Regions from separate parts of the Homo sapiens genome. Here region 1 is linked to region 2. The links come from fine-mapping of genetic effects on gene expression. A gene starts in region 2. The other region holds a variant in brackets. All regions are shown on one strand. Distances are from middle to middle.

Evidence for each region. PIP is the estimated chance that this variant, and not a neighbour inherited with it, causes the effect.
Region 1: its variant is fine-mapped to the expression of NCBP3 in whole blood (TOPMed, PIP above 0.99). The same link has a PIP of 0.9 or more in blood mononuclear cells and lung.

Annotation. Positions count from the first base shown.
Region 1 is chr17:3,822,948-3,825,859 of GRCh38, reverse strand. NCBP3 (nuclear cap binding subunit 3) reads left to right here. Exons shown (of 13, transcript NM_001114118.3): 6 at 17-93; 7 at 810-918. Among named protein-coding and RNA genes, the nearest start is that of NCBP3, 22 kb to the left of the region's middle. The variant G/A (reference allele first, on the strand shown) is at 1,318.
Region 2 is chr17:3,844,843-3,847,754 of GRCh38, reverse strand. NCBP3 (nuclear cap binding subunit 3) reads left to right here and starts at 1,509. Exons shown (of 13, transcript NM_001114118.3): 1 at 1,509-1,714. The coding sequence starts at 1,532. RefSeq lists silencers at 1,221-1,340, 1,521-1,810.

The DNA.
Region 1 (2,912 bases), 22 kb after region 2:
TCACATTCCATTTTAGACAAGCAGGAAGACAGTTCAGATGATGATGAAGCTGAAGAAGGAGAGGTTGAAGATGAGAACTCAAGTGATGTAGAGGTTAGTAATAGGGGAAAGATAGATGTAAAGTTATTGTAAAAAATTGCTCACTGTCTTTTTAACTTAAGCCTTAAAGACTTAGTTACGTTTTTTCTCTAGCTTTCACCATTAGACCTTCTGAGGGTGCACCAGGCTCTTGTCCTTTAAGTTAGTGTGGATATAGCGATTCACCTTGAAATCTTAGAATAGTGCTTATGCTTCTACAAAAAAAGAAAATAGTTTTATTGAGAAATACTTTGAAGTGTTATCTAATTAGTAAAATGAAGAAACAGCAAGTAATGGCATACTTCCTAATGGATTATGTACTGTTGTTAAAAATATTAACATGCATTCATTTAAAAAATATTTACTGAGTACCTATTATATACCATATTCTAAGTGCTAGGGATATAGCTTCAAGCAAAACAAAGTCCTGGCCCTCTCGGAGCCTGCATTCTAGTGGGGAGTGCAGAGGATACACTGATGCACAGATATCTCATACTGTGTCAGGTGGCAATGAGTGTTGTGAAAAGAGTAGGGGATAGAGAATGATGGAGACTGTTCTTTTAGACAAGGTGGGCAGGGGAAATCTCTGAGTTAGAAATTCTACAGCGGAACTAGTGCTATAATGCTTGTAAGTATTAAAGGTAGAATGCTTTTCTTAATGGTAGCTTTACTACTGAAGAAATATCAAAAGGACTTTAATTTTTATATTAAAAATACTCTTCTTTCTTAAGTTGGATACGTTGTCTCAGGTAGAAGAGGAGTCTTTGTTAAGAAACGATCTTCGTCCAGCTAACAAACTTGCTAAAGGAAATAGGTTATTCATGAGATTTGCTACAAAAGGTAAATGTAATATTTGGTATTGTTTTATATTTTCAATCAAAATGATTTATTATGGAGTGACATCCTTCTTTTTTGAATAGAAGTTAGATCAAGTAATCTCAAAGTTCCCTTCAAACTATAATATTCTGCGCTTATGAAATAATTGCTTGCCACCTGAGTTGGAATTTCTGACTTTAAAAGTGAATATTAACTATTTGTATATTTCTGTGACTTCTGGCTAAAGTTATTTTCTGTTGAAACTGGTTTGCCTCATATATTTTCAGCCAGTTACCATCTGAATTATGAAAACTTTCAAATGAAACTTTATTTATTACAGCAACGTCCTCCTGAACATTGCCAGTGTACCATTCGGTTCTAATTCCCTTCTCATAAGATTGTTTACACATGGTGACTTTTGGT[G/A]GGCATTTAAAAATGTGTGTGTATGTGTATATATGTATGTGTATGTATGTGTATATATGTATATGTATGTATGTATCGCGTGTATGTGTGTATGTATGCATGTGTATGTATGTATATGTATGTATGTGTATGTGTATATATGTATGTGTGTGTATGTATATGTGTGTGTATGTGTATGTGTGTGTGTATGTGTGTGTGTATGTATGTATGTATGTATATGTATTATACACATATACACATATTGGTTTTTTTAATCATTTGAGAGTTAGTTGAAGATAAAAACCCATCACCCCTAAATGTATTCCAAAGAATAAGAACATTGTTTTATACATAGCACACTTAACAAAATCAAGAAATTTAACATTAATACAGTACTGTTACCTAATCCGTAGTCGATTTTCAAATTTTGTCAGTTGTTCCAATAATGTCCTTTATATATTCCCCGCCCAGCCCCAGGTCTAGGATCCATCCAGGACTGAGTGTGTAAGTATGTAATGTTTCCTTAGTCCCCCTTAAGCTGAAACTACTTCTATCCTCCCATGTTTTCCAAGAATATAGGTTTACTATTTTATACAATGTCCCTCAGTTTGGGTTTGTCTGATGATTCCTCCTGATTGAATTTGGGTTGTGCATTTGAGACAGGCGTGCCACAGAAGCGATGTCATGTCATTTCCAGAGCATCATGTCAGGAGGCCCTGGATACTTACTCGTCCCAGTCCTAGGGACGTTCACTTTATTCACTTGGTTAAGGTAATCATCACTAGGTTTTTCCACTGTAAAGTTGCTATTCTTCCATTTGTAATTTAAAAATTGGTGGGCTGGCTGGTTACAGTGGCTCGTGCCTGTAATTGCAACACTTTGGGATGCTGAGGCAGAAGGATCACTTGAGCCCAGGAGTTCGAGACCAGGCTAGGCAACATAGCAAGACCTCATCCCTATTTTAAAAAATAAAAAAATGATTAAAATAAAAAATTGGTGGGCAGATACTTTGAGATCACGTAAATAGCCTCTTGCTCATCAGAGCTTCATGCCTTTCTGACTATGTCATTTCTTTACCAGTAGACAGGTGCTCTAAGGAAGAGCCTTCTGTTTTTACCTGTTTGTTTATTTACATCAGTTTAGAATCATGGATTCTTTATTCAGTGGGTTATCATCCATGGATATCAGTATTTAATTTTATTTATTTTTTTGTTTGTTTTGAGACGGAGTGTTGCTCTGTCACCAGGCTGGAGTGCAGTGGCGCGATCTTGGCTCACTGCAACCGCTGCCTCCCTGCAACCTCTGCCTCCCTGCAACCTCTGCCTCCTGGGTTCAAGCAATTCTCCTGTCTCAGCTTCCCTAGTAGCTGGGACTACAGGTGCATGCCACCATGCCCAGCTAATTTTTGTATTTTTAGTAGAGATGGGGTTCACCATGTTGGCCAGGATGGTCTCGATCTCTTGACCTTGTGATCCGCCCGCCTCAGCCTCCCAAAGTACTGGGATTACAGGCGTGAGCCATCGCGCCCAGCCTAATATCAGTATTTTAATTTACAAATTGTCTTGGATTTGGCCAGTAGAGCCCCTTCAAGCTGTTTTGACATACTCCATGATTCT
Region 2 (2,912 bases):
AGTACTTTGTGTCCCATTCATCAAATAAAACTAGTCCTCTAAAGAGCTCTGTCTTGTGTTTATCCTGTGGTTTAGCCCAAATTTAAGAAAAACTGTGATGTACTGCACCCCTTCTGTTGGACCCTGTATCTACATATAAATTATCACATTTAACCCTCACAACCTCCTTTGTAGGTAGGTAATGGTCCATTTTACTGATGAAGGAACTGAGACTCCAAAGTGCTAAGCAGCTTGCCTAAGGTCACACATGGTGGATGGGGCCCGGCCAGCCAGCTCGAAACCCAGGTGTGTCTGATGCTGACCATGCTCTTCCTTGGTTTATCATTATTTGCTCCTCCATGGTCAGAGCTGGTAGGGCCTCAGGGCCTCAGAGACTGTAGGGTCTCACCTATGCCCTCCTCAGATGGGAAAACAGACCCAAAAACCTGTCCAAGGTTACCCAGGGAGGAAGATGCAAAATCAGGACTCAGGCCGGGCGCGGTGGCTCATGCCTGTAATCCCAAGACTTTGGGAGGCCGAGGCGGGTGGATCGCTTGAGGTTAGGAATTCGAGACCAGCTTAGTCAACATGGTGAAACCCTGTCTCTACAAAAAAAAAAAAAAAAAAGAAAGAAAGAAAGAAAGAGGAGAGGGAGGAAGGAAGGAAAAGAGAAAGAAAGAAAAGAAGAAAGAAAGGAAGGAAGAAAGGAATAAAGAAAGAAAGAAAGAAAGAAAAAGAAAATCAGGACTCAGAACAGCAGCTGATCAGTGACACCCTCGGGACGCGTAGACAACCCCTCTCCCCCACCAGGCTCTCGTTAGAAATATCCGCCGGAAACTATGCTCACAGGTCTACAGTGGATGGCACCCTCAGGAGTCAGGAAATCGGCGTCCAAGTTCTGGCCTTTGGGCAGGTCTCTCCCTCTTGGAGTCTCAATTTTTGTGTATGTAACATGGGCCAATTTTGGGGAGACTTTTAAGAGACAAAGACTGGCAAGGCAAGTAACTTTATAAACCTACAGATTGTCCAGAGGTGATATATCAAGGCTCATTGTAAACTCTGGAAGACTTAGATCCAGCTTTTATCCCTTAAATGGCGTCACCTTGGGTCAATTTCTATGCCTCAGTTTCCTCATATATGAAATGGGGGTCAAAATAGGATCTACTTCATAGAGTTGTTCTAAGGGTTCGAGCGCTTGGAAGTGTCTGGCCCATAGTGATCACTCAGGAAAGTTGGCTTTTAGTACAGCTTTAGCCTCAAGGCGTAGCTACATTGTAACCCTTGACTACCCCGGTCTCCTCCAAGCTCCGTAGTTCCCGCAGGCCCCGCCCCCGTCCCCGCTCAGTCCCGCCTTCTCCTCCCCAGGTCCCGCCCGCGCAGCCGGCCCGGTTTTCTCCCGCCACCAGGGGGCGGCGGCGCTAAGGGCGGCCTTCTGGGCCGAAGCCGGCGACGCTCTAGGTAGCTGCGGCGGCTCCTCTGTGGCCAGTGGCAGCGGCGCTCTAGCCGGCGGCCGTGAGGGGCGGGCTCTCAGTGGTGCGGCCGGCAGGCAGCGATGGCGGCCGTACGGGGCCTGCGGGTGTCGGTGAAGGCGGAGGCCCCGGCGGGGCCGGCCCTGGGGCTCCCGTCCCCTGAGGCGGAGTCCGGTGTTGACCGTGGCGAGCCGGAGCCCATGGAGGTGGAGGAGGGCGAGCTGGAAATCGTGCCTGTGCGGCGCTCGCTCAAGGAACTGATCCCGGTACGGGCGGGGGTCGGGGGGTAAGGAAGAGGTCGCGGGGCTAGTGTCTAGCGCCGGAGGGGGCCGGAAGGGGCGGTGGCCGGAGCCCCAGCCGGGGAAGTCAAGGGAGCGGGAGAGGAGGGAGCCAGCGTCCTGGGAACGGGAACGCCGGGCTGGAGGAGGGACGCGGAGCGGGAGAAAGGACGCCGGGGCGCCGGAAATGGGTGTTGAGGGGGCTGGGGGGTGGTGGCGGAGAGCTGGGAGGGAGTTGAGGACCCCCCTCCGCTGCCCCCTCTGAGCCGCGCTGTGCAAGGAGGTGAGTGAGGAGGGGCTGGAAGGATGAGATAAAGGGGGAGCCCTGGGCGGGAACAGAACCAGGGGCAGCCCAGAAGGAGCTGTTGGGTGGCGCCAGCAACCAGGTCTCCTTGTGGGTCTTGCCCCGGAGGAATTTGTATCTGGGAAACATGGCACTCGCTCTTTGTCTTGAGAGGGCTGCACTTGTCAGCAGCAGAAACTCACTGTTTCTGTCGTGACTTCGGGGTCATCTTGCCCCCCCCGCAGCTCCAGTGACACCTACACCGTGGCCCCAGCATCTGACTCTTAATGAAAGCAAACTAGCAGACGACCAATAGACATCCTTGGTCCCTCCTTTACCGCGCTGGGGATGGTGAGAGGTGTTTTGCTTGTGACTTGGTGGCTGTATATCCAGTTCTCAGAGCTGGTTTCAGGCCTGGATGACTCCTCTTAATTTCTCACCTAACATGAATTACTTTTGACCACATGTCAACATATTTAGACTGAAGTTATGGAGAAAGGTTAAAGTATGATCGCTAGAGATGGCAAACGTTATAATTATGATTAACAACAGCTAATATAGTAGCATTTACCATTCACTATATTGTGTCACTTAAATATACTGGCCGTGCACGCCTTTAGTGCCAGCTATTCAGGAGTCTAAGTTCCAGACCAGCCTCAGCAATATAGCAAGACCCCTTTGAGGTCCCCCCTTTCCCCTCTCCCCATCTCAAAAACAAAACCAAAATAAATAAATATTACTGCAGTTGTGAAGCAGGTGTTATCATCCCTTTAGTCATTCAGTTCAACATGGTTTTTGTTTTGTTTTGTTTTGAGACGGAGTTCGCTCTTGTTGCCCAGGCTGGAACGCAATGGCGCGATCTCGGCTCACCGCAACTTCCGCCTCCCGGGTTCAAGCCATTCT